Regions from separate parts of the Homo sapiens genome. Here region 1 is linked to region 2. Evidence: fine-mapped expression QTL. A gene starts in region 2. The other region holds a variant in brackets. All regions are shown on one strand. Distances are from middle to middle. Region 1 has its middle 7.4 kb from the start of ATF7-NPFF. Region 2 holds the start of ATP5MC2 (ATP synthase membrane subunit c locus 2).

What was found. PIP is the estimated chance that this variant, and not a neighbour inherited with it, causes the effect.
Region 1: its variant is the best candidate, but not a certain one, in a credible set for the expression of ATP5MC2 in prefrontal cortex (CommonMind, PIP 0.53).

The regions. Positions count from the first base shown.
Region 1 is chr12:53,632,290-53,635,199 of GRCh38, reverse strand. It overlaps the pseudogene RPL31P51. Among named protein-coding and RNA genes, the nearest start is that of ATF7-NPFF, 7.4 kb to the right of the region's middle. The variant T/AT (reference allele first, on the strand shown) is at 1,132.
Region 2 is chr12:53,675,084-53,677,965 of GRCh38, reverse strand. ATP5MC2 (ATP synthase membrane subunit c locus 2) reads left to right here and starts at 1,883. Exons shown (of 5, transcript NM_005176.7): 1 at 1,883-1,913. RefSeq lists enhancers at 1,392-1,621, 1,732-2,181.

The DNA.
Region 1 (2,910 bases), 43 kb after region 2:
GAATATATATCCTTCTAAAGTTCACATGAGGGCCAGGGGCAGTGGCTCACGCCTATAATCCCAGCACTTTGGGAAGCTGAGGTTGCTGGATCTTTTGAGGCCAGGAGTTCGAGACCAGCCTAGCCAACATGGCTAAGCCCCTTCTCTACTAAAACTATAAGAATTAGCCAGGTGTGGTGGCGCATGCCTGTAATCCCAGCTACTTGGGAGGTTAAGGCAAGAGAATTGCTTGAACCTGAGAGGCAGAGGTTGCAGTGAGCTGAGATTGTGCCACTGCACTCCAGCCTGGGCAACAGAGTGAGACTCCACCTCAGCGCCTGTAATCCCAGCTACTGGGGTGGCTGAGGCACGAGAATCACTTGAACCTGAGAGGCAGATGTTGCAGTGAGCTGAGATTGCACCACTGTACTCCAGCCTGAGCAACAGAGTGAGACTCCGTCTAAAAAAATAAATAAAAATAAAGTGTACATGAAAAAATTTTTCAGTATAAAATATATTTTAGGCCAAAAAATAACTCATAAATTTTAAAGTATTGTAATAATGCAAAGTATGTTTTGTAATCATAATGGAATAAAATTAGAAATTAATCACAGAAGAAAATGAGAAATTCACAAATATGTGGAAAATAAAAAACATATTCCTAAATAAACAATGAATCAAAGAAGAAATTACAGGGATGTTAGACAACACTTTGAAATAAATAAAAATAAAAACAAAACCTATTAAAATTTTATGCAATGCAGCTAAACCAGTGCTTAGAGGGAATTTTATAGCTGTAAATGAATAAATTTTAAAAAGAAAAAAGACCTCAAATCAATAGCCTAAACCAAAGAAAAAAAGCATCTAGGAGCTGTGGCTTATGTCTATTATCACAACATTTTGGGAGGCTAAGGCGGGAAGATCACTCGAGGCCAGGAATTTGAAACCCACCTGGTCAACATAGTAAGACCCATCTCTACAAAAAAAAAAAAAAAAAAAAAAAAAAATAGCCAGGCATGGTGACACTTGCCTGTAGTCCTAGCTACTTGGAAGGCTGAGATGGGAAGATCACTTGAGGCCAGGAATTTGAGGCCAACCTGGTCAACATAAGACCCATCTCTACCCAAAAAACAAACCAAAAAAAAAAAAAAA[T/AT]TAGCCAGGCATGGTGACAATTTCCTGTAGTCCCAGTTACTTAGAAGGCTGAGATGGGAGGATCACTTGAGCCCAGGAGCTTGAGGCTGCAGTGAGCTATGATCGGGGTACTGCACTCCAGCATGGGACTAGACTGGAAATAAATGAAATAAGGAATGAAAAAATAATAGATAAAATCAATGAAACCAAAAGTTGATTCTTTGAAAAGATGAACAAAATTGACAAAATTTTAGCTAGATGGACCAAGATAAAAAGAGAGAAGACTCAGCTGGGCCTGCTGGCTCATGCCTGTAATCCCAACAGTTTGGGAGGCTGAGGCAGGAGGATCATTTGAAGCCAGGACTTTTTGGGGGGATTTTTTGGCTTTTCTTTGAGACAGTGTCTCACTCTGTTGCCCAGGCTGGAGTGCAGTGACATGCCATTCACTGCAACCTCGAACTGCTGGGCTTAAGCGATCCTCCCAACTCAGCCTCCCTAGTAGCTGGGACTATAGGTGTGAACCACCACACCTGGCTAATTTTTGTATTTTTTGTAGACAGGGATTTCGCCCTGTTGCTCAGGCTGGTCTTGGACTCCTGGACTCAAGCAATCCACCTGCCTCAGCCTTCCAAAGTGCTAGGATTACAGGTGTGAGCTACCATTCCTGGTCAAAGCCAGAAGTTTGAGACCAGGCTGGGCAACAAAAGTGAGATGTGTCTACACAAAACAAAATTCAAAAAATTAGCTGAGCTGGCATGGTGGCATGTACCTGTAGTCCTAGTTACTCAGTAGGCTGAGGCAGAAGGATCGCTTGAGCCCAGGAGCTCAAGGCTGCAGTGAGCTATGCACATACTTCACTTCAGCCTGGGCAATAGAGCAAGACCCTGTCTCAAATAAATAAATAAATAAAGCTTTCCAACTTGGGCCCAGCAGAATGGCCCGCAAAGAAGGGTGGCGAGAAGAAAAAGGGCTGTTCTGTCATCAACAAGGTGGTGACCGAGAATACACCGTCAACCTTCACAGGTGCATCCACGGAGTGGGCTTCAAGAAGCGTTCCCCTTGGGCATGCAAAGAGATCTGGAAATTTGCCATGAAGGAGATGGGAACTCCAGATGTGCGCATTGATACTAGACTCAACAAAGCTGTCTGGGCCAAAGGAATAAGGAATGTCCAAGACCTTATCCGTATGCGGTTGTCCAGAAAACATAATGAGGATGAAGATTCACCAAATAAGCTCTATACTTTGGTTACCAATGTACCCGTTACCGCTTTCAAAAATCTACAGGCAATGTGGATGAGAACTAACTGCTGATAGTCAGATACATCAAATAAAGTTATAAAATTGCTTTCAAAAATAAAAATAAAATGAGAGAGAGAGAGAAGACTTAAATTGCTAAAATCAGGAATAAAACAAAGAATGTTATCATCAGGCTCACAGAAATAAAAATGATTATAAGGGAATATTATGAAAATTGCATGCCAATAATTAGATAATCTAGATGAAATATAAGAATTCCTAGAACGACACAAGCTACTGAAACTGACTCAAGAGGAAATTTTAAAAAATTAAATAAACCCATAACAAGAAAAGAGACTGAATTACTCATTAAAAATAAAAAAGTTCCACAAAGAAAATCCCAGGACCATGTTGTTTCACTGGTGAATTCAGTCAAATGTTTAAAGAACACTTAACACCCTTCCTTCCTTCCTTCCTTTCTTCCTTTCCCTCCCTCCCCGCTTCCCTTCCTCCCTTCCTCCCTCCCTCCCTCTCTCTCTCTTCCTTCCTTCCTTCTTTCTTTC
Region 2 (2,882 bases):
TTGGGGGTGGTGGCTCCTAAGAACTGTGGACTTTCTCTGCCACTGAGGATGTGAAGCTGACAGCTTAAAAGAATTCCGTTTTGGTGGGAATGGAGATGTCTGGAGACCTCAGGGGATAAACTTGTGTCTTTGCTAGCCTGTCTTTCTCCTAACAGCATCTCCACAGTGCCTGGCACCACTTGGTACTTGATAAATACCTGTTGATTGATTCCCAAAGATCCCAGTTCCATTTCCCACGTACCTGCCCGCTCGGGGCGCAATCAACAACTAAAACTGGAGATTTGGGGATTTCAGAGGAACCTGTGAGAATCCTGATGGAGCTGGAAATGCGAATTTAGGAAAGACAGGCAGTCTACCACCCTCCTCTTCTCGCCCGCTTCTCCTATTTCTCCCCACTCCTTCCCCTCCCTTTCAGGAGCTCAGGGCCATAAAAATGCAGATGGAGGATCGGTGTGAAATAACGGGCCCATATAAATCCCTCTGCCGCCCGCCTGCAAGATGGATTGGCCGCATTGAAATTCCTCCGCGAGGATAATTAAACTCGGGGCCTCATCCGGGCAAAATTACATTCCTGTAATGGCGTCGCTCGGGGTCCCGGGAAATTGCTCCGTGGGCTTTCAGCGGCGGTTTTTATCGCCGGCCGGGGTGTGCCTGTCTGCGGCTCGCCTCTCCTCCGGGACCGTAAAGCTGCTGCCGTGATTTATCCTCCCCTTCTCCCAAATCCGATTAAATGGAGGAGCTCGGGGCCGGGGCGCCGCGGGGCCCGGGAGCCGGGAGGGGGCGGCGGGAAGGACGGGGCCAAGGAGGGGAGGACAAACGGCCCCTCAGAGAGTGGCGGATTTGCCTTTATTTACAGCCGCGGCTTTCTTTTTATTTTTTATTTTTTATGGGGTTTGGTGAGCTTTTCCCGTCTTTCTCGTGCTGCGTTCAAGCACGATGCAGGGACGGCAGGGGTTTGGAACTGGATAGGCCTTGTCGCCCTGTTCCAAAGGGCAGGGCAGGTCCTGTCTGGGAGACAAGGAGGCCTAGGAAAGATGAGGGCCAGGAAGCCTCCCCCACCTCCTTCCATCAGGGGAAGGGCGAGCGAAAGGGGAGAGAAAACCCACGTTCAGGAGAGCATGGGGGCGGGAGGGGAGGGCGCTGCTTATCCCAACTCGCGTAGTTGAAACCTGAGCAGAGGCTCGGGCAAGCCTGGAGTGACCTCGCAACCTTACAGCGGGTCGCAGGTGCCCGTTATTCCTAGACTGTCCCAGGAGCCAGGAAAGAGGGATTCGGATCATATTTAACCCTATCTTCTGGCTCGCTGATGCTGCTTCTCTCATGGTTTATCACCGGAATGGAAAGGAGGAAACGGGGAGTGGGGGAAAGGGCGAAGCCACCAGAAGCAGCTGCGGCATTTTGCTGACTATTCGCCCATGGAGCCGGTTTGCCATCCAGTGATGCCAGAGTCCCGGCGCGACAGAAAGCAGGACTCCCAAGATCTTCCTCCTGCTGCATTTTAGGCACTGAACCCCAATCCCGACCGTATGTTAACACTGAATTCTGAGTAGGAGTTTTGTTTTGGCAGTGTGACGACTGCGCATGCTCGGAAAGGGGACGCAAGTCCGAGATCCCAAACGCGGTACAGACCAAACCGCAGTCCACGTTACGGATCGGCTTACTCCGCGGAGTTGGCCTCATTTCTGCAGTCGGCGCTCCCTGTAGTTTCTCCTCTCGAACGCCAGGTGGAGCAACCGGCCGGATACCGCCACAGCCCTGGCAGGCGGCGCTGTGATGCCTGAGCTGATCCTGTATGTTGCAATCACTCTATCCGTGGCTGAGCGACTCGTTGGCCCGGGTCACGCATGCGCTGAGCCTTCCTTTCGCTCTTCCCGCTGCTCCGCCCCTCTCTGTCTTCTCTGCAGTGGGAGCAGGTAAGGCCTTGGGACCTAGAGCCCTCTGTGCGCTGCGCACGCGCGCGGGACACCTCACCTTGCGCGGATGCTTTGAGGCGCTTACCTTGCGTGCTCCCACCCTGGTCCTCTCGCCCTTTCTTGCTTCCGCTATCCCTTAGCCTTAGAGTTGGCTCTTCCGCGTGCCGGTGACCTCCAACCGCGCGGGCCTGGCGCCATCTTGGATGTCTCGCAGGGGGAGGATACCTTGGAGCTGGCCAAAGTTAGATCCTGGAGTGCTGCTTTTCACCTGTTCCACCCAGTCCCTGCAAACACTCTTTTCTCGCCCTCTGGCCCTTTCAGATTGTGACAACCCCCAGGCTCTCCCCTCCTATCTCTGCTTTCTCTTCTCATCCTGACTTGTGCCTTCTTTATTCTGAAATCTCCAGACTTTAGGCCCCAGAACCTCAGGTGCTCCGAGCAATGGAGATAGTGGATCGTCTAAAGTCACCAATCCCTCTAGTCAGCACCCCTCAATTTAAAAAGTAAACCTTGAACATGGTAGAAGTGGGAAAAAAAGCCAAAACATCGCCTCCCGTTAGGTTGTGGCTTGGGATAGCTAAGGCAGAAGAGAGAGGCTGGTTGCTTTGGAATCACTAGTTATTTACCAGTACCTTTCTCGCATCCCGGCACGCTGGTGAAGTTGTAAAAGTCACAAATGGTGGGCTAGAGATGAGGGTTTCTGTTGAGGCAGCAGGCCCAGAAAGGTGGGGTAAGGCCAAGCTAGTGGGGCCAGCATGAGACCCTGCCTGCCAGCTTTCCTGTGAAGGATTAATTAACCTCCCCAGATTCTGCTGTTACAAGGAAAAGAAGGTTTAAGGAAAGGAATAGTTAAGTTACTACCCCTGTGACTCATCTACACTGAGGAAAAAGCCCGTGATGATTTTGGAGTCCTGATTCTGGATAGTGCCTTTGCCCAAGTTGTAGGCTAACAATTGCAGAGTTGCCATG